Linked DNA regions of Homo sapiens: region 2 is linked to region 1. Evidence: fine-mapped QTL for protein levels in blood plasma. A gene starts in region 1. The other region holds a variant in brackets. All regions are shown on one strand. Distances are between the middles of the regions. Region 1 holds the start of ACY3 (aminoacylase 3). Region 2 overlaps GSTP1 (glutathione S-transferase pi 1).

What was found. A credible set is the group of variants that fine-mapping cannot tell apart. PIP is the posterior inclusion probability: the model's chance that the variant is causal. The UK Biobank Pharma Proteomics Project read protein levels with antibody pairs (Olink). The fine-mapping took linkage between variants from a reference panel, not from the people measured, so its PIPs are less certain.
Region 2: its variant is the best candidate, but not a certain one, in a credible set for the plasma level of the ACY3 protein (UK Biobank, PIP 0.55).

The regions. Positions count from the first base shown.
Region 1 is chr11:67,647,786-67,659,063 of GRCh38, reverse strand. It overlaps ACY3 (aminoacylase 3), which reads left to right and starts at 8,334. Exons shown (of 8, transcript NM_080658.2): 1 at 8,334-8,481. RefSeq lists enhancers at 8,053-8,112, 8,183-8,262, 9,993-10,412, 9,940-10,462, 10,873-10,952.
Region 2 is chr11:67,584,696-67,595,629 of GRCh38, reverse strand. GSTP1 (glutathione S-transferase pi 1) reads right to left here. Exons shown (of 7, transcript NM_000852.4): 4 at 10,858-10,934; 5 at 10,389-10,492; 6 at 9,419-9,526; 7 at 8,977-9,241. The coding sequence ends at 9,053. Among named protein-coding and RNA genes, the nearest start is that of GSTP1, 6.4 kb to the right of the region's middle. RefSeq lists enhancers at 7,217-7,506, 8,870-8,939 and a silencer at 7,375-7,575. The variant C/T (reference allele first, on the strand shown) is at 7,304.

The sequences.
Region 1 (11,278 bases):
GGCCACTACCGGTCTCCACACCTTGGTGGTAGTGGTCCCCTGGGCCCAGCTGTGTTTTCTTCTATCTCTTTGTCTTGTGTATTTATTTCTACCATCTCTCATCTCCACACATGAAGAGAAAAAACCCACATATCCTGTAGGGCTGGACCCTACAACAAGCGTGAGCCACTGCACCTGGCCAGTTTTGCTCAATCTTAATTAGCAATTTTGGACCATAGCCAATTGTGAATGCTTCCAGAGAAGAATTTAAAACAACTGTGGGTGGCAGGGCATGGTGGCTCACGCCTATAATCCCAGCATTTTGGGAAGCCAAGACGGGAGAATCACTTGAGCTCAGGAGTTTGAGACCAGCCTGGGAAACATGAGACCTTGTCCTTATAAAAAAATAAAGACAATTAGCTGGGCACAGTGGAGCACCCCTGTAGTCCCAGCTACTCAGGAAGCTGAGGTGGGAGGATCACTTGAGCCTGGGAGGTTAAGGCTGAAGTGAGCTGTGATCACGCCACTGTACTCCAGCCTGGGCAATAGAGTGAGACCCTGACTGAAAAATAAGAATTAACTGTGGGTGACAAAAGCCCAGAGCAGCCAGTCAGAGATCTGATGACAATTTACAATTGACAGGAAATTTCAGCATTTCTTTTTTTTTCCTTTTTCTTTTTGAGACGGAGTCTCACTCTGTCACCCAGGCTGGAGTGCAGTGGCGCATTCTCAGCTCACTGCAAGCTCCGCCTCCCAGGTTCACACCATTCTCCTGTCTCAGCCTACCGAGTAGCTGGGACTACAGGTGCCCACCACCATGCCCGGCTAATTTTTTATATTTTTAGTAAAGACAGGGTTTCACCATGTTAGCCAGGATGGTCTCAATCTCCTAACCTCGTGATCCACCCGCCTCGGCCTCCCAAAGTGCTGGGATTACAGATGTGAGCCACCGTGCCCGGCCAGAAATTTCAGCATTTCTCTGGCATACAACCATGTGACACAACCATCACAGTCATGACACATATCTTGGCATATCAGAGTTTTAGGAATCTCAAACCTTTTCCCCTGTGTTAGTGACACACTTACACAAACATTACTTAAAGGAAGTTAAACACCGTTTCTATTTGACAATGCTTCCCATATTATTTACCAAGTAAGCCTGATCATTTAATATCTCCAAAAGATCAGAGACAAAACCTTTGAGGCTTGTTCCAGGAGGCCCTTTTGGTAGAATCTCAAAGTTGATTTTAGGCCAGATGGCTTAATTTAGGATTTGGATCCTGGGGAATTCTGCCAAAGAGGATGTCAAAAAGTTCAAATGGCTTCCTTCAACAGAATCAGAGATCACTGCCGAATAATAGTTACTCGTTTAACCACAGTGACAATCAAAAGAATTCAAAAGCAACACGAAAAGTTACATGCATGGAAAAACCTTAACACTTTAAAGCTCAGTCTCCCTAAGCAATCTGTGTTTCCTAGGCTGGTGAGCAGGGGAATACATTAGTAATACCATGGGAAGTCCTGGTTACATGAAACAACTCAGACACATTAAGAAAAACCAAGAACACAGAATCAGTTTATACTGGCGTAAAGCTGCTTTTCTAGACCTTTGAGATAAACCTGAAACCAAAGAAATTAGACTGATCTTAAGAAGGAATATGACAGAAACAGAAACTAATTTGTAATTCAGAGAATGGCTATTAACGAAGCAGGTTTTAGAAATAAATATCAAAACCTCTTGGAACTTTACTAAGAGTGAATTAATGTCTTAAGAAACTGCTGTTTTTTGTTTGTTTGTTTTTAAGACGGAGTCTCGTTCTGTCACCCAAGCTGAAGTGCAGTGGTGTGATCTCGGCTCACTGCAAGCTCCGTCTCCTGGGTTCACGCCATTCTCCTGCCTCAGCCTCCTGAGTAGCTGGGACTGCAGGTGCACGCCCCCAAGCCTGGGTAATATTTTGTATTTTTAGTAGAGACGGGGTTTCACCATGTTAGCCAGGTTGGTCTCAAATCTCCTGACCTCATGATCCACCTGCCTCGGCCTCCCAAAGTGCCTGGATTACAGGCATGAGCCACTGCGCTCAGCCGAAACCACTGTTGTTTTAACACAGGGGACCAAAATTGTAAGTTATGTATCATGTGTTTTAACATTCAAATTCATTCTCTAGAAAAACTGTTACAGGCCAGGCATGGTGGCTCATGCCTGTAATCCCAGCACGTTGGGAGGCCAGGATCACCTGAAGTCAGGAGTTCAAGACCAGCCTGGCCAACATGGTGAAACCCCATCTCTACTGAATATACGAAAATTAGCCAGGCATGGTAGTGCACGCCTGTAATCCCAGCTACTCAGGAGGCTGAGGCAGGAGACTCACTTGAACCCAGGAGATGCAAGTTGCAGTGTGGCAAGATCGAACCACTGCACTCCAGCCTTGGCAAATGAGCAAGACAGCCAGACTCCATCTCAAAAAAAAAAAAAACTATTACAAATCATTTCATTTAATTACAGCCAATTTAATCACACCCAACATTTCCATCATAAGTTCCCATTCACAAGCCTTATCATGACTTACTCAGACAGCTGTGGCATGCTTGGACTTGCCCTGTACTTCCTCTTTCTTAAATGTCTAGTCATTTTAGTCCAAGACAGAGATTGAACACACAAGTTTCTTTCCTATACAAAATTACTCTCATTGCTTCACATCTGTAATTTTCTTTACATCTCTGTCTCATCTACTTACTGGTTCCTTTTAATCTTTTTTCTATTTCTTTCCTAAATCCATATTTTAAAACTCCCTTTAAATAACAGCTAAATTAGACAAATTACTTTTTTTCTCAATAAAGAATATATTGTATACCTTTCTTACTGTTTTCTTATTAAGTGCTCCTTACTTTTGGCACACTTCCTATATAGAATTGTATATTAGGATTTTTAAAAACCCTTAGTACTCTTAAATTTTTGTTTTTAATTATCTTTTTTCTTTTTTTGAAACAAGGTCGTGCTCCATCACCCAGGCTGGAGTGCAGTGGCATTGATTTTGGCTTACTGGAGCCTTGACCTCCCTGGCTCAAGTGATCCTCCCACCTCAGCCTCCTGAGTAGCTGGGACTACAGTAGGCATGTGCCACCACCCCTGGCTAATTTTTTCTTTTTTGTTTTTCAGTAGAGACAGAGTTTCACTATGTTGCCCAGGCTGGTCTGAACCTCCTGATCTCAAACGATCCTCCTGCTTCAGCTTCCCAAAGTGCTGGAATTACAGGCATGAGCCACAGTGCCCATCCAGTTCCCTTAAATTTTGTTGAAAACATAGGAAGCACAAAATCTTGAACTTCCTATCACATATTGGTATTTTATGGGGAAGAGCCATTTTGTAATTGTTAGAAAAACATGTTTTCCTATAGCATAATTTTTATACGTATTTATAGGCCCAAACATATTTAGTCTTTATATTAAATTTAAGAGACCCAGGGCAAACATATTTATGGTCAGCAATTTGTTCCAGTTTTTGTCTTATTTGGAAATAACTCACATAGTTAATGAGTATCCATTACCTAATAGAGGATTTCAAATTACATTAAAAAGCCGATAGATACTTATCCCATTTACCTTTACATACTTTATTTATTTTTAGCAGTTTACCAGGATTACTTATGAGAACTGATATATTAGACAAAGCTAGTCATCATTTCAAATTATTTATCTGTTAATTACCTTTATATAGCTGGATGTCAGGCAACTATCATAAAAGTAAGAACCTTTAAGGCCGGATGCTGTGGCTCACGCCTGTAATCCCAGCACTTTAGGAGGCCGAGGTGGGCAGATCACGAGGTCAGGAGATCAAGACCATCCTGGCTAACACAGTGAAACCCCATCTCTACTAAAAAAAAAAAAAAAATACAAAAAATTAGCCGGGCGTGGTGGCAGGCGCCTGTAGTCCCAGCTACTCGGGAGGCTGAGGAAGGAGAATGGCGTGAACCCGGGAGGCAGAGCTTGCAGTGAGCCGAGATCACGCCACTGCACTCCAGCCTGGGCGACAGAGCGAGACTCCGTCTCAAAAAAAAAAAAAAAAAAGTAAGAACCTTTAAGTTACATTTCAGAAGGCACACCATTCCCATCAAACCAACAATTTTAGACTAGTTCCATTCACCAAAAGATTACTGTCATGTGAACTTGAAAAGCACTTGGTCTTATTTGCTTAGTTTATGAGTACTCATTTCTTTATAAGCCAATTCGGTACCATAGCCAAATATAACCGGACGTGTACATACTACCAGATACAAATAACGATCCTATAGCTTTAACTTTTAAAGGTTTAGCCATGGGTCAGGTAAAATTCACTACTTAAAAGACAGTTCCAACTCTGTCTCCGTCCAACTAACAATTTTAGCTAAAATTTATCTCTCCCATACAGCAGAAGCCCTTTCCTAAATTTTAGGAAGAACACGGTAGAAAGGAGACAGGCAAAAATTTGGCTCTAGTGTCGGAAAACCCGTGAGTCTCTCCCACAGCAATTGTTACCCGATCTAGGGGTTCCCAGATCATAGAGGAGTCCCCAAGTCCCATCACTTCTGGTCACTATTAGCAAACTGTAGCATCTGGTGGGCTGATTGACGGGGAAGTTTCTTTCCCTACCCACTGGGGACAGTTAGGACACTCTAGTACCCAATGGCCCTCTTGTTTACAATATGCACACTGTTGTGTTCTCAAGGGCGGGAGGCCCTTTGGCCGGGCAGTGGGGTCCCTAGGGATCTTACTTATGGCTGATCATCTCCAGTGAACTGTTTTGTTTTTTTGTTTTTTGTTTTTTTCAAGAAAGAGTTTTGCTCTTGTCGCACAGGCTAGAGTGCAATGGCGCGATATCAGCTTACAACCTTCGCTTCCTGGGTTGAAGCGATTCTCCTGCTTCAGCCTCCCGAGTAGTTGGGATTACAAGTGCCCACCACCATGCCTGGCTAATTTTTTATATTTTTAGTAGAGACAGGGTTAGCCATGTTGGCCACGCTGGTCTTGAACTCCTGACCTCAGGTGATCCTCCCGCCTCAGCCTCCCAAAGTGCTGGGATTACGGACATGAGCCACCACGCCTGGCCGCAGTGAACTGTTTCTTGTGTACTGGCTGGTTGTAGCCAAGAGACTCGATGGCTTCTTGTCTTGTGTTGCCTTTTTGTTTTTTGTTTTTTGTTTTTTTTTTGCCCTTCCTGGACCTGGCCACAGTTGCTCAATACCTTAAGGGTAATCTCAACCAATGGAGATGTCAGCATCCCCAGTGTCCCTTCTGCTTTTTGTAGTTTATCCGCATGGCTTCTGCCACTGGAGTCCTGCTACAATTACTGTTTTCCCATATTACCCACCCAGCAGCTTAGAGGCGGGATTGGTGGTGACACAGATCCCACAACTCTTGGCCCACACTCAACTAGTTTTAAAAATATATTGGTGGGGAGGGGCGGGCATGGTGGCTCATGCCTATAATCACCACGCTTTGGGAGGCCGAGGTGGGTGGATCACTTGAGCTTAGGAGTTCGAGACCAACCTAGGTAAGATGGTGAAACCCTGTCTCTATAATATTAGGTTGGTTCAAAAGTAACCGCTGTTTTTGCCATTGAAAGTAATGGCAAAAACTGCAATTACTTTTGTACCAATCTAATTTTTTAAAAATTAATTAATTAAAAAAAATTGGAAGGCATAGATTTCACTCGGCAAGGCAGGAAATCTTGTAACTGCTCTATACTGTGGCTCTGCCGACCGCCCGGCACTGCTCCAGCAGATGCAAACTGCCCGAGATTTTGATGAATTCACTGAAGGAAATAAAGACATTGTGTTTAAAAACACAGCAGAAAGGTTGGGTGTGGTGGCTTATGCCTGTAATCTCAGCACTTTAGGAGGCTGAAGGGGGTGGATCACTTGAGCTCAGGAGTTTGAGACCAGACTGGACAACATAGCAAGACCCCATCTCAAAAAAAAAATTAGCTGGGTGCGTGCCTGTAGTTTCAGCTACTTGGGAGGCTGAGATGGGAGGACTGCTTGAACCTGGAAGTTGGAGGTTGCAGTGAGCCACAGTCGAGCCACTGCACTCCAGCCTGGGTGACAGAGCCGGACCTTGTCTCAAAATTAAAAAAAAAAAAAACCCACTGCAGAAGACCTTCAGAATTGCTTGCCTCTAGAAACCATGCTTTCCTCAGAACATCTAACCCTTCAAAAACTACAGCAGCAGCCAGAACCCACCATTCACGCTGACGCATTCCTTTGTGATAAAGACTTCATTGATTCATTATGTGACAAAGGGAAAATGAGCAGAAACTACTGGGTGGTTCACACCAAACAGAACCTTTAGACCGATTGCTCGTTCCTTCTCCCTCATGGAATTGAAGTTCATTTATCTTCATGCACTCCCTGATCAATCAGGAAAGGCTGTGGCTGACGTCAGCTCCAGGCTCAGCACAGTCTTTATGGGGTGATCTTATAGCTTAGCAGTGCAACCCTGTGGAGTAGAACTGAACGGAGACTTTTGCCAGTTGCAGGAAATGGTCATTAAAAAATACCAGTTTATTCACAGAATAAAGGTGCTTCATGCAGACATCTGTCCCCAGGGTTTCTTCTGCAAAATGCTGATGCTGCTATCATGAATAATGTCTTCAAATATTCTCTTAATGAGGCAGAACAAGCCGGAGCTGGGAATACATTTGTCATAATGTAAGGAAGCAGATCATCATCAGTGACAGTGCCAAGTCTTGAAGATTCTCTCCTGGGTCTTCAGACTAATACACATTTATCTCCCTGGGTTGAAGAAGTACTGTGGGACTATGATGTATACCCACAAAAGGATATTGACAAAGAAGCTCTTTATTTATTTATTTATTTATTTATTTATTTATTTATTTATTTATTTTCTTTTGAGACAAGGTCTCACTGTGTTGTCTAGCCTGGAATGCAGCCATACGATAACGGCTCACTGTACTCACGGTACGATTACCTCCAACTCCCCGTGCTCAAGTGATTCTCCCGCCTCAGCCTCCTGAGTAGCTGGGGCCACAGCTGTGTGTGCCACCACCTGGCTAATTTTTTTTTTTTTTTTTTTTTGAGACAGAGTTTCGCTCTTGTCGCCCAGGCTGTAGTGCAATGGCATGATCTCGGCTCACTGCAACCTCTGCCTCATGCCTCAGCCTCCCAAGTAGCTGGGATTACAGGCACCCACCACCATGCCTGGATAAATTTTGTATTTTTAGTACAGACGGGGTTTTGCCATGTTGCCCAGGCTGGTCTTACACTCCTGACATCAGGTGATCCACTCGCCTCAGCCTCCCAAAGTGCTGGGATTATAGGTGTGAGCCACCGCGCCCACCCTAATTTTTTTTTTTTTTTTGGTAGAGACAGGGTCTCCCTATGTTGCCCAGGCTGGTCTTGAACACCTAGGCTCAAGCAATCTGCCCCCCTTGGCCTCCCAAAGTGTTGGGGTTACAGGTGTGAGCCACTGCACCCAGCTGACAAAGAAGCTCTTGAACAAATTCATTTAATGAGATTCTCTAGCACTAAAATAGTCCTACCTCATTGTAATGTTTTGTAGAGTATCTTATAAAACAATGAAAAAAAACCAGTATTTTAATACATATTTTTCTGTATATTTCCTTCTAGCCTTTGTACATATGATCACATATTTGTAAAAAGTTGTATGTATATATATACAACTTTACCCGCTTTGTGTGATGATATGACAAAAACATTTATCTGAAAAAAGTATTTTTTTCATCAAATGGCAGAGCTCCTGTTTCTGGTAACCCGGGGTATGGCAAGTAGGGGCTCTGGGAGATGGAGCAGCTCAGCCTCCTGTGAAAAATTCTGTTTCTCTAAAAAAGAACAAATTCTCATGCTGGGCGCGGTGGCTCACGCCTGTAATCTCAGCACTTTGGGAGGCCGAGGCGGGCGGATCACGAGGTCAAGAGATCGAGACCATCCTGGCTAACACGGTGAAACCCCGTCTCTACTAAAAATGCAAAAAATTAGCCGGGCGTGGTGGCGGGCGCCTGTGGTCCCAGCTACTCAGGAAGCTGAGGCAGGAGAATGGCGTGAACCCGGGAGGTGGAGCTTGCAGTGAGCCGAGATCGCGCCACTGCACCCCAGCTTGGGTGACAGAGCCAGACTCTGTCTCAAAAAAAAAAAAACGAATTCCCAAAACTAGTCCCACTGTTGTCTACCCAGATCCGGGATCCGGGTTGCCCTTGGCCTGGCCAGAGATGCCTCTCAATCCCCCACGGCACGTAGAGCCAGACAGAAACCGAAAGCAGAGGTGCCCTGCGCTGAAGTCTAGAGATCCCACTGCTAGGTCCAAAGAATTTACCCTTTCAGTCAACCCACGGGGCAAAGTCCACTTTCTTCCCTGAAGGAGCAGCACAGAACAAAAGCTCCAGGCAGCTGCTTCCGCTGTTTCGGGGGTAGGGCGGAGTGACAGCCCCACGGGCCACGCAGCAAGCAGAAGATCCCCGGGAGTCACCCTCAACCCTCTGGGGCCACGTGGGTGAGTTCGCCCGGGGAAGGTGCCGCGGCCCACTGCTTTACCTTAGTGAGCCTCAAGAAGTTAGGATCAGAATCCCAGTCGGCCCCATCTGGGTCGCCAGAGTTTTGTTACCCACACAACGGGTGGGCTCAGTTGCTTGGCGGGTGTTAACTAAAGAGGATTTAATAGGGGATTTTATTTCTTGCAACAAGTAAGGAGAACACCTAGACAGCTCCCAAAGCAGTGTCTCCCCGAGCTGAGGGCTGGGGCAGGTTTTATAAGCATAGGGTAATGAGGCGTGATCTGATTGCATCTTGCAATGAGGTGATGCTGGGAGGCATGATCTAATTGGATGCTGACACAGGGGGGAACCACAGCTCTGACCCCTCTCTGGGTCTCAGTTTCCCCAACTGCAGTGAGGAAATTGGCCCCCGTGATGATGCCCATGACATCACCATCCTCTGCCCTCACTCATGCTGGGGTCTCCATGTGCCCATTTTCAAGCTTGTGCCCGCCCTTTGTTCCTCACTCCCCACAGCTGCCCTTGGCCAGGACTTTCACAGGGTGGAGCCAAGGCCCAGAGAGGGCACTGAATCTCTCCAGGTCACACAGCCTGTCAGGGAGGTGGGGCCAGAGCCAGGTCACACGTGTGCACACAACACACACACACGCACACATGCTCACGCACATGCACGCACACACGCTCTCAAGCACATGCACACATGCACACACATGCACACACACTCTCATGCACACACGCACACATGTACACACACATGCATGCACACATGCACACAATACTCTCATGCACATGCACACACGTACACACGCACACATGCATGCTGTCACACATGCGCACACACGCACACATGCTCTCATGCACACACGCACACATGTACACATACATGCACACATGCACACAATACTCATGCACATGCACACACATGTACACACGCACGCACACACGCATGCTGTCACGTACACATGTGAGTGCACACACGCACACACATGCTCTCATGCACACGCACACATGTACAGATGCACACATGCATGCACACACATGCACACACGCGCACACACTGCCAGGACTGGGGGCTGCTGTTTCTGAGGGTTCCTGGACCCCGTTCTGTTCCATAAACACTCACTGAAATGCAGAAGCTGGACCCCAGCCAAGGGAAGTGAAACTTTCCAGCACCCCTACTGCTGTTCTCCCTAAACTTGGGGGCCCAGCACCTTGTGGCAGGAAGCACCCTGGCCCCCAGCAGCCCCCAAAATAGCTAGGTCTGCCACGGAGGCCCTTCCTTCCTGAGAGGTACCACACCGAGTCAGCAGGATCCCAGCCTCTGTGGGGGTTGGGGGGGCCTTCCAACAAAGACCATGGCCTGGGACTCATAAAGCAGCATGGGGGTCCCTGAGACCCCTACCCCAAGCAAGGAAGGAACAGACCCAGGCCGACAGGCTCCTCTGCTGACTCCCTCTCCCACCACCTGCCAAGGACTCAGTCAAGTCACCCAACCCCTAGAGCTTCAGTCCACACCTGCAAAATGGAGCCGGTGACAGCTGCCCCCAGGGCTGGGCCGGATACAGGAGTTGATGGCATGGCATGGCCCCCTAATGGCAGTCTCTGCCCTCCCTTTGCTGAGGCTCCAGGTGCCAGGAGGAGTGGCCCCTGGAGGGGGCTCATAGGGAGCCCCGGCCCACTGGGGGCTCAGCCTCACACTCCATCCACCCCTCTTGACACCCTGTCAAGATCCCAGCTGCCCTGATGGGAGCCAGGATGACAAATCCCCTGTCCCCACAATCGCCATGCTCTGAGCTCACGAAGCCTTGGGTGTGGAGGGCAGGAGAGCCCAGGCCACACAGAGCTGAGTGTGATCTGGGGCAGCTTCCGAGAGGGTGTAACTTAGAGGGTCCTGGCCACCCAGAGCCCCCCAGGCTGGTGGGCCTGGCATCTGGAGCAGGGCTGGACTGGCCCGGGGAGACCCAGTGTGGTGGTAAAGAAGGCCCAGGATCGATGCCTGGGGGAGGCTCCAGCTCAGGGTCCCAGCACCTGGCATCCAGCAGGCCCTGGCGGAGCAGCTTGCCTCACTCCCCAGTGACTTCGGAACTGGCCTCAGCTCCTCCCAGCAGACAGCTGAGCCTGGTGGGAGGTAGAGGCCCCAGGGCTGAGTGCAGGGGACCTCACCTTCATCCTTCCCCACTTTGCTCTTGAGAGGCAGCAGGAGGGGATGGAGCCACATTGGACGCACTGAGTGCCACCTACAGCCCGCCTCTAGGGCTCTGTGCGCCACCTGCAGCCCGCCTCTAGGGCTCTGTGTGCCGCTGAACAGTCTGCCCCTAGGGTTCTGTGGGCCACCTGCAGCCTGCCTCTAGGGCTTGTGTGCCTGCAGACAATTTTCTGAGCCTCAGTTTTCACATCTATAAAATGAGCCTGAGGGTTGTTCCCAAAACAGGGCAAACCGAGTCATCTGAGTTACACTGTCCTTGAAAATGACTGAAATCCCGGATCAAACATTTTAAAATTTTGCTTAAAGCAACAAAGAGCTGTAAAACTGGGGCTCCACATGGCACCTTTGGGTAAGGGCGACTCAGGAGTGACCACAGCCCTCTCCGGGCTGCAAGGACAGAGGCATGTTGCCGAGGTGGTGAAGGAGGGGCAGCTTGTCATCTTGGTGGCCATCAAGGTGACACCTCTATAGTAACTTTCAATAGCCTGCTCTGGTGGTGACCAAAACCAAGTCACCACCCCACTGCGGGTGTACCTCTTAGTAGTGTTAAGGAAGGTGGCCCCTCTGGGGCCCAGCAGAAGGACGAAGGG
Region 2 (10,934 bases), 63 kb after region 1:
GGCCGAGGTGGGCAGATCACAAGGTCAGGAGTTCGAAACCAGCCTGGCCAATATGGTGAAACCCTGTCTCTGCTAAAAATACAAAAATTAGCCGAGCATGGTGGTGGGTGCCTGTAGTCCCAGCTTCTTCAGAGGCTGAGGCAGGAGAATCGCTTGAACCCGGGAGGCAGAGGTTGCAGTGAGCAGAGATCGTGCCACTGCACTCTAGCCTGGGTGACAGAGCGAGACTCCATCTCAAAAAAAAAAAAAAAAAAGAAAAGAAAAGAGAAAAGAAAAAGGAAAACATTGTAAGAGTATAAAAGGTATATAGAAACTTTATCTTGAGTAGTGGTCAAAAGTGATTGAGATTAGATGGATCTGTTTGCAAGATTTTATTATAACTATATTTTTAGCTGTAGCATTAATAATACACTAATGTAAAGGTAGAATTTAGTTTTCTCTTTTAAACGAGATTTTCATGTAGTAGTAATAAGAGATTGTAAAAGATTTTTGTTTGCCTTTTGAGCAAACTGCAAAGTGAAAAAAATAAAAAAAGAGGAGCGAGTTTGCCTTATGCTTCCTTCATTAGGTCTTTGGATTGTTTAGAAAACTGAGTCTCCTCTCTATCAAACAATAAAGGTTTTTGCTTTCGGAAATCTTTTTTTTTTTTAGATGGAGTTTCGCTCTTTTTGCCCAGGCTACAGTGCAATGGTGCGAACTTGGCTCAATGCAACCTTCCCCCCACCCCCCGTGTTCAAGCGATTCTCCTGCCTTAGCCTCTTGAGTAGCGGGGATTACAGGCACCTGCCACCATGCCCAACTAATTTTGTATTTTTAGGGGAGACAGGGTTTCACCATGTTGGCCAGACTGGTCTCGAACTCCTGACTTCAGGTGATCCTCCCACCTTGGCTTCCCAAAGTGCTGGGATTACAGATGTGAGTCACCACACCCAGCTTTTCTGAAATCTTTCAGTTATCACTTTGGCTAAATGAATGACTATTATTTTGAAGTTCCCCATGATTCTATTTTGAACAAGTCTTTTAAACCTTTTCTATTTTAATATCAAGTGTTTTAAAGCTTTGGTATTTGACAAACTTCCAAAAATGAAAATTCAAATTCTAAATTAAGCCATTTTGACCTCAAACTAACGTTTCAACATTTGAAAAAGAAAAAAAAAACCCATGTAAGTTCAAGAGAACTTGGTATTATTTGGCATGTAAAAATTACACAGCAAGCATTGTCAAAAAAGAAATGACATTTAACTTTCTTTGAGTTATATTTGTGAAATGTGTTATTAATATGTGTTCCAAAATTATATGAGATTCCTAAAAATCTGATATGTGTTGGTATATATTATCAGTCATTATTGTAAGTATTGTGTTGAATTATAGTGATACGGAAGGGGGGCAGGGAAGTGCTGGGTAGAGGAATGTGTAGTCCCTGGCTAGGGCTCCACCCCCAGGCCTGTGCCCATGGACCTGGGTGAAGACAGGCATTTTTGTTTTCCTGCCCAAATATTGCATTTCCAAAGAGCACCCTGGCCCACCACACCCATATCCTGTGCCTATAAAAACCCTGAGACCCTAGCAAGCAGACACACAAGCAGCTGGACGTGGAGAGGAACACATTGGCAGAAGAAGACACAAGTGGCTGGACGTTGAGAGGTCATTGAGGGGTGCCAGCTCTGTCCCACAGACCCTGGCCAACAGAGGAAATGAGTACCCAGACACAGGTATGCAGTGTTAAGAGCAGCTAGGTGACTGCCTGGCTCTAGTGGAAGAAGCTGGAGCTGCTTTGCTTTTATTCAGTGCAGGCACAATGTCGAAAACCTGGAGCCGACACAATCTGTAAGTCATTAATATTTATTATTCCCCTTTCAGGGAACCTCATGTTCCCTGAAACATGATCATAGGTGATCATAGATGATCTAAGGTCAGTTCCTGGTCGACATAAGTAAACATGCCTATTTAAGATAAAATCCCCCATACTCCCTTGTACCTACTCCTTGCCCTCTGCCTCAGGGTTATAGAAGAGCTGCCTTCAGTTCTTCTCCCCCAGGGCTCTGCAGAACCTTCCCACCTTTCAGAAGGTTTGCGTCCTTTCCCTATAGTTCTTCCCACCTCTCTGACCAATCTGCCACAGAAGGGAGCAGGCTGGTGGAAGAGCACACGACAGACGCCAGCATGCCGGCAGGCCATCCACCTGCAGAACGAGGCGGAGTTTGGCCGGGCAGTCAAAGGCAAGCCCAGGCCGCTGAGCAGCCTGACTCCAGGGCAAAACCTTCCCACTCCATGCCCTTCTGGCTTCCTCCAACTGCTGAGAGTTACCTCCACTCAATAAAACCTTGCACTCATTCTCCAAGCCCAGGTGTGATCCTATTCTTCCAGTACACCAAGGCAAGAACCTGGGATACAGAAATCCCTCTGTCCTTGTAACAAAGCAGAGGGTCTAATTGAGCTGCTGGTTAACACAAGCTGCCTATAGATGGCAAAACTAAAAGAGCACCCTGTAACACATGCCCACTAGGGCTTCAGGAGCTGTAAACATCCACCCCTAGATGCTGCCGTGGGTTGGAGCCCCACAACCTGCCCATCTGTATGCTCCCCTGCAGGTCTGAGCAGCGGGGCACTGAAGAAGCGAGCCACTCCCCCATCACATGCCCTGCAAGGGGGACAAGGGAACCCTTCCCGTTTCAGTAGGCCACAAAAAAATAAAATGACCAAATTTCTTTGTTGATTGCATCTTTGACCATGACTACTTTAAATCTTGCCCTATTCCTTCTTGGAGAGCTCCCTCCAATCTTCATGGAAACTAATGAACCCATTTCACTGGTCAAATAATTCAGTTTATTTGTAACGTATGGCTGATTTTTCAACATTTCCATTGTCCATACCACCCTCAGTCTTCCAGACTTGTGAAATGCACAAATAATAAAAATCAAATTGGCAAAGCTTATAGAAACTTTTTTTTTTTTTGAGACAGTCTCCCTCTTGTCGCTCAGGCTAGAGGGCAGTGGCGCGATCTCAGCTCACTGCAACCTCCGCCTCCCAGGTTCAAGCAATTCTCCTGCCTCAGCCTCCTGAGTAGCTGGGATTACAGGCACCCACCACCATGCCCAGCTAATTTTTGTACTTTTTAGTAGAGACGGGTTTCGCCATGTTGGCCAGGCTGGTATCGAACTCCCGGCCTCAGGTGATCCGTCTGCCTCGGCCTCCCAAAGTGCTGGGATTACAGGTGTGAGCCACCGTGCCTGGCCAAGCTTATAGAAACTTGAAACTTCTCTGGCCTAAGAGTCTCCCATTGGTATTGCTTAATTCACACTCTACCCCATTTCAACAACATCGGCTTTCTTTCTTTGAAATAACAGGAAGGCCATGTGCCTGAATGCAGAAGTCTATGAGCTAGCTCTTCTTAAAAATGCTATACTTCATGATTGCCAGGGCCTTTATAAAGCTTCTCAATTAAAAAAAAATTTAATTAATGAAGAATTCTTTTAAAAAGCAATCTCCCTGGAGACAGACATCAAAGATCACAGCTTCCAACCTGGAGATTTTGTTTATTGGAAACATCATCAAATAAAATACTCCCTCCAACCATGTTGGAAGGGATCATGTCACGTACTGTTAACCAGTCTTTGTGCAGCTAACATCAGGGGCATTGACTCATGGATTCTCATTTTTTTTTTCACTTTAAAAAGGCAGCCCACCTGAGTGGACATCTTTCATCACCAGAGATCTCCCACCGAAGCTGACCACAACCAGTCACCTTGTTCTTCAAACCTGGATGAGAAGTGGAAACTCGGTTTGGAAGGATCACTCAAAAGGCTAAATGGCTGCAAGCTGTCAAAAAGCCAACCCCATTACATGATCTATTTGATTTGTTACCTTCACAAATAAGAACACTTTTCAGATCTGGATTTCAACTTGTTTTGTTAATAACTGTCTTTATTTGCATCATATTTTTTTTTTGATACAGTTTCACTCTTGTCGCCTAGGCTGGAGTGCAGTGGCGCCATCTCAGCTCACTGCAAGCTCCGCCTCCAGGGTTCAAGCGAATCTCCTGCCTCGGCCTCCTGAGTAGCTGGGATTACAGGTGTCTGCCACCACACCTGGCTAATTTTTGTGTTTTTAGTAGAGACAGGTTTCACCATGTTGGCCAGGCTGGTCTCGAACTCCTAACCTCAAGTGATCTGCCCAACTCAGCCTCCCACCTCAGCCTCCCAAAGTGCTGGGATTACAGGTGTGAGCAACTGTGCCCGGCCAGTAGTTTTTATTCTTAAATTGATTATGCTTTGCATTTCTAGATGTCTTAAGTCAACAACAAAAAATAAAATCATGATAGCTAGATGCTTAGAAATGCTCTCACATGTCACGGCTCCTTTGTAAGCGGATGGCTCGACTGAGTTCCCATTGCTTTGTCCCTCTGTGGTTCTAATCAATTTGACCTTGAGACTTCACTAAATTCTTTTTTTTTTTTTTTTTTTTTGAAATGAAGTCTTGCTCTTGTTGCCCAGGCTGGAGTGCAATGGTGCGATCTTGGCTCACTGCAACCTCTGCTTCCCAGGTTCAAGCGATTCTCCTGCCTCAGCCTCCTGAGTAGCTGGGATTATAAGCGTGCACCACCACGCCCGGGTAATGTTTGTATTTTTAGTAGAGACGGGTTTCACCATGTTGGCCAGGCTGGTCTCGAACTCCCGACCTCAGGTGATCCACCCGCCTCGGCCTCCCAAAGTGCTGGGATTACAGGCGTGAGCCACCGTGCCCGGCACCTTCACTAAATTCTTTAACCATAGGTACCTCTCCTCTTTCTCTCTGAAGTAGGACAGATGGCCTGGGAATAAGCCTTCCCAGTGACATGGGACAAACTTGCATCTAACACATTGATTCCTGAATCTTACGTGACAGTGAACAAAAATCATATGCATAAAAAAAATGTCGATCATCAATGCTTTCAGAAGAGAAAAATATCTATCAAAAGAGGGAAATGAGAAAGAAAAGTAGCTTAGAGCAGTGTGAAGAATGCGAGCTATGCAAAACGTATCAGGCCAGGAGAGACAGGAAAATGAGTCTCCCTGCCGGGGGTAGTTGTTTAAGGGTATTTTGTTCTTTCTTCTCGTGTAGTTTCCAGACTAACTGATAAATTAAAATGCTATCAGGCATCGATTTTTTTTTTGAGACGGAGTCTCGCTTTGTCACCCAGGCTGGAGTGCAGTGGTGCAATCTCGGCTCACTGTAAGCTCCACCTCCCAGGTTCACGCCATTCTCCTGCCTCAGCCTCCCAAGCAGCTGGGACTACAGGTGCCTGCCACCACACCCGGCTAATTTTTTTGTATTTTTAGTAGAGACAGGGTTTCACCATGTTAGCCAGGATGGTCTTGACCTCCTGACCTCGTGATCCACCCTCCTCGGCCTCCCAAAGTGCTGGGATTACAGGCGTGAGCCACTGCACCCGGTCAAAAGTTTGGGTTTCTTCTGGCCTATATATGGACCAAGTAGGGGCTTGTGGACCTTGGATATTGTCCTCAGAGCAATACCATTCTGCCTCTTGCATCCAATTTTGAGCTTCCTCAGGTCCTGTCAACATATGTGTAACTAGATTACTGAGGTCAGGGTGGAGCCCATTAACAAATAGGGCAGACAAAGCATTTTCTATGCCGGACAGGGATACCTTTTATTATTGCTCTGAGCTTAAGATTTTAACTATGGCATAAGGGTAAAGAAGCAGACATGGTTGATTTGACAGCCTAACTTGTATAACTTATCTAGCTGGGTTTTTTTTCATTGCATCGTCAAGGTGGGAAGGTAACCAAGCAAAGAAGTCAGCAGATTCAGAGGAGGCTAGTGAGAAAGATGGAGAACTTAGAACCCTCTGCTTGCCAACCAAAAATACAACCCATTATTTCTGGGGTGTTTGGGATCCCCCCTCTTTTTTTTCAATGCATTCTGGAGATGAGCAGTTTTATTTAGGTTAAAACTTCCCCACTGTGGCCACCAAAATTCTAAATTATTTTTGGTAAGATTCAATCATCTCTCTAGAAGAGCACAAGTCCTGCGATGGAGTCCCAGACCCCCTGGATTTAAATGAGCCCAGAATTGTTTGTTTTCCTGGAACCTTACCTATTAGAGGTCTTTCACTAAAACCATTTCAGTTTCTGTCTGACCCAGTCAGATACCTGAAGCCTCCCTACAGGATGCGTTAAACTTCTACCACAACTTCCAAACCCAGTCCAGATCGGCTCAACTCAGAGAACTCGATTTAAGTTCTGGAGTTTGTATGTGATATGGTTTGGCTGTGTCCCCACCCAAATCTCATCTTGAATTGTAATCTCCACGTGGTGAGGGAGGGACTTAGTGGGAGGTGATAGGATCATGGGGGCGAATTTCCCCCTTGCTATTCTCGTGACAGTGAGTTGTCACGTGCTCTGTTGGTATAAAAGGATGTGGAACTTCCCCCCTTACCTCCCCTGCCACCATGTAAGATGTGCCTTGCTTCCCATTCGCCTTCTGCCACGATTGTAGGTTTCCTGAGGCCTCCCCAGCCATGCAGAACTGTGAGTCAATCAATCTTCTGTCACCCAGGCTGGAGTGCAGAGGCGTCATCTCAGCTCACTGCAGCCTCTGCCTCCCGGGTTCAAGGGATTCTCCTACCTCAGCCTCCCGAGTAGCTGTGATTACAGGCACGTGCCACCATGCCCAGCTGATTTTTTAAATATTTTTAGTAGAAATGGGGTTTTCACCATGTTGGCCAGGCTGGTCTCCAACTCCTGACCTCAAGTGATCTGCTCGCCTCAGCCTCCTGAAGTGCTGGGATTGGCTGGGTGCAGTGGCTTACGCCTGTAATCCCAGCACTTTGAGAGGCCGAGGCGAGTGGATCACCTGAGATCAGGAGTTTTGACACCAGCCTGGCCAACATGGTGAAACCCTGTCTCTACTAAAAATACAAAAATTAGCCAGGCATGGTGGCATGTGCCTGTAATCCTAGCTACTTGGGAGGCAGAGGCAGGAGAATCACTTGAACCCAGAAAGTGGAGGTTGCAGTGAGCTGAGATTGTGCCACTGCACTCCAGCCTGGGCGACAGAGTGAGACTCTGACTCAAAAAACAACAACAACAACAACCAGAAAAAAAACCAAAGTGTTGGGATTACAGGTATGAGCCACCACACCTGGCTTAGCCTCTTTTCTTTATAAATTACCCAGTCTCAGGTAGTTCTTTATAGCAGTGTGAGAAGGGACTAATACAGTATCTGAGTGGGACTTACCAGTGATGACCTTCAAATATGCTGCAGGAAGCAGCGTGCAGGGGGCTCAGTGAAATGCCTACAC[C/T]TGTTTGCTCATTGCTCCTGGAGACCATCACTGGGCCCAGGATGGGGAGAAATCCTTCAGATCCTTCTGATGTCCTTCTGAAGGATCCTACCTCTGACATCAGATCTGCTAGAAGATAAACTTAAGCCCATTTACATTCTAAAGAGTTTATTTGAGCATTCAGTGACACATAAATTAAGATAGCACAAGACCAAAGCAGCTAGTGCTTCTATTAGAGGGGAAGTGAAACTTAATCATTTTGCAGAAGCCAGACAAAGAAAACAATTTTGACTGGTTAGAGTGAAAAGTCCCAAGTTAGAGGTTAGTTGGCAGTTTCTGATTAATATAGCGTATTAGGCTGGGTGCGGTGGCTCACGCCTGTAATCCCAGCACTTTGGGAGCCCAAGGCGAGTGGATCACGTGAGGTTAAAAGTCCGAAACCAGCCTGGCCAACATGATGAAAGCCCATCTCTACTAAAAATACAAAAATTAGCCAGGCGCGGTGGTGGGCACCTGTAATCCCAGCTACTCAGGAGGCTGAGGCAGGAGAATTGCTTGAGTCTGAGAGGCAGAGGTTACAGTGAGCAGAGATTACACCACTATACTCCAGCCTAGGCACCAGAGTGAGACTCCATCTCAAAAACAAAACAAAACAAAACAAAACAAAAACAGTGTATTAGTCCATTCTCACACTGCTACAAAGACCTATCAGAGACTGAGTAATTTATGAAGAAAAGAGGTTTAATTGACTCACAGTTTTGCAGGCTTAACAGGAAGCATGACTGGGAAGCCTCAGGAAACTTACAATCAGGGTGGAAGGTGAAGGGGAAGCAGGCACATCTTTACAAGGTGGCAGGAGAGAGAGAGCGATTCTCATGCCTCAGCCTCCCAAGTAGCAGGGACTACAGGTAACCGCCACCACACCTGGCTAATTTTTGTATTTTTAGTAGAGACGGGGTTTCACCATGTTGGTCAGGCTGGTCTTGAACTCCTGACCTCAAGTGATTCACCTGCCTCAGCCTCCCAAAGTGCTGGGATTACAGGCATGAGCCACTATGCCCAGCCTAGATAAATTTGAATGCTTTTCTCTTGCTCATGTCTTTAGTTCTCAGGCCCAGCCAAAAAACCCTAAAAGGACAGAGATAAAATTTTGCCTGCCCTACAGCATCTTACTGGCTTAGCTTCTCTGGAGAATCCTAATACAGTAGTGTCATTGCTTGCCTAGGATGCACCAAAACTCACAAGTCAGCAGGAAGCCAGGAAAGCCCCCATCCAAGCAGAATGACCCTCCCACCAACCTGGGCTGCTCAGAGCTACTCAGCTAATCCCCCAGGACAGGGAACTCCTCACATCCCTCCTTCCCAGAATCCCTCATTTCCCTCCATCCTGGAGTCTGTCCATCTGACAGGCACGTGCTGTGCCTAGAAAGCATGTTTCTATGAGACTTTTCTCCTTCTATATACACTGTGTGGTGCTCCAGGACAGTGACCATGGTTATTTCTCTTTGTTTCTCTCTCTCTTTTTTTTTCTTCCTCTTCTAGTTTGTGAGGTTCAGTAAACACAGCCAGGCTGAGGGCTCCAGGAAGCCACTGACTGTGCTGGAGGAGCTGTTTTCTAGTCCTCTGCTCTGCCCTCCCACCGACCTCGAGGCTGAGAACCCCTAAGCCCCGTCCCAGGAAACACAGTGCTCATAGTAGCTCTCTTAGAAATTTTATTGGTCCTGGAGAAAGGAAGGCAAACTCTGCCTCCCGCTCAGAGTCCCCCCAACCCTCACTGTTTCCCGTTGCCATTGATGGGGAGGTTCACGTACTCAGGGGAGGCCAGGAAGGCCTTGAGCTTGGGCCGGGCACTGAGGCGCCCCACATATGCTGAGAGCAGGGGGAACGCATCCAGGCAGCCAGGGGCTAGGACCTCATGGATCAGCAGCAAGTCCAGCAGGTTGTAGTCAGCGAAGGAGATCTGCAGGGCAGGGGGGCCAGGGACTCAGCCAGCGGGAGCAGGCTGGAGGAATTGGGGGCAGAGGGCCTAAGCCCATCCCCTAGGTCTGCTCTGCTTTGCTAAACAAATGGCTCACACCTGTGTCCATCTGGAAGCAGAGGGTGGCGAGGAAGGAACAGCATGGGGCCAGATGCTCACCTGGTCTCCCACAATGAAGGTCTTGCCTCCCTGGTTCTGGGACAGCAGGGTCTCAAAAGGCTTCAGTTGCCCGGGCAGTGCCTTCACATAGTCATCCTTGCCCGCCTCCTGCCAGACACCACCATGTATCATCCTACTCTCATCCCTCCCAGCCCCTGAGACACCCCCGTCTGCCCCAGGCCAGACACCAGAGTCCCAGATTCTCCTCTGCTTGCTCCCCACAACCAGGCTAGTACCAAATCCTGTCCACTTCAGCTGCCAACTCATCTCTATTCCATTCTGCCTGTCCATCCTTGCTGGGTTCTCTCACCAGATGATTGCAAAAGCTTTAGAGCTGGCTTCTCTGGAGGATCCTTCTAGACCTCACATTCAGACACAGCCCTGTTCAGACTTCTCAATGGCCCCCATTGCCCTTAGGAGACTCCAAACCAGTGGGTTCAAGGCCTTCGGGACCTGGGCCTACTGCCCGCCCATCTCTATCTCCTTACCCACCCGACACAAATGCAAGCGTACACACACACACGCACACACATGCACACGCACGCGCACACACGCTGCCTCTGCTGAACTGGTCCCAGGTCCCCAAATGTGCTCTGTGTCTGCATATTTTCCTCAGCTAAAAGTGCCAGCACCTCCATCCAGAAACTGGCGACAAATCCTCCTCCACCTCTGGCTACTCCAGGAAGCCCTCGCCACCCCAGGAGATCAGAAACCACCAGTTGCTGGAGGTCTCTGTCCTTGCACTCGCCCCCATGACCCGTTACTTGGCTGGTTGATGTCCCAGGCAATAAGGGTGCAGGTTGTGTCTTGTCCCAGGCCCCTGGGCCCCTGGCCCAGAGCTGACCCAGCCCCTGCACCCTGACCCAAGAAGGGGTCAGCCCAAGCCACCTGAGGGGTAAGGGGGGTGAGGGCACAAGAAGCCCCTTTCTTTGTTCAGCCCCCAGTGCCCAACCCTGGTGCAGATGCTCACATAGTTGGTGTAGATGAGGGAGATGTATTTGCAGCGGAGGTCCTCCACGCCGTCATTCACCATGTCCACCAGGGCTGCCTCCTGCTGGTCCTTCCCATAGAGCCCTGGGGTTGGGTGGAGGGGAGCAGGCCGCGTGACTGGGCGCCTGATCAACACACAGTCACTGGGGATGGGCCAACCAGGGGGCTGTCTGTGAGCCCCAGCCTGGGAGGAGGGGAAGAGGATGTGCGTGGAAGGATGAGAGACTGCCACACAGCAGGTGCTCAGAGCTCACCTGACACCTGGGAGGCAGCCTGGCACAGGGCAAGGATTGCAGGCACCCAGGCTTGACCTTGGGCAAACTACGTAACCTCAGTGGGTCTCAGTTTCCTCCACTCCAGAGGGCTGCGGGGCAGCTGATTTAAACAAAAGGGCTCCGGGGGCAGAGGCTTGCCCATGCCTGCCCTGGACTTGGAGGTTCAAGACTCACCAAGGGTGCGGCCCAGGTGACGCAGGATGGTATTGGACTGGTACAGGGTGAGGTCTCCGTCCTGGAACTTGGGGAGC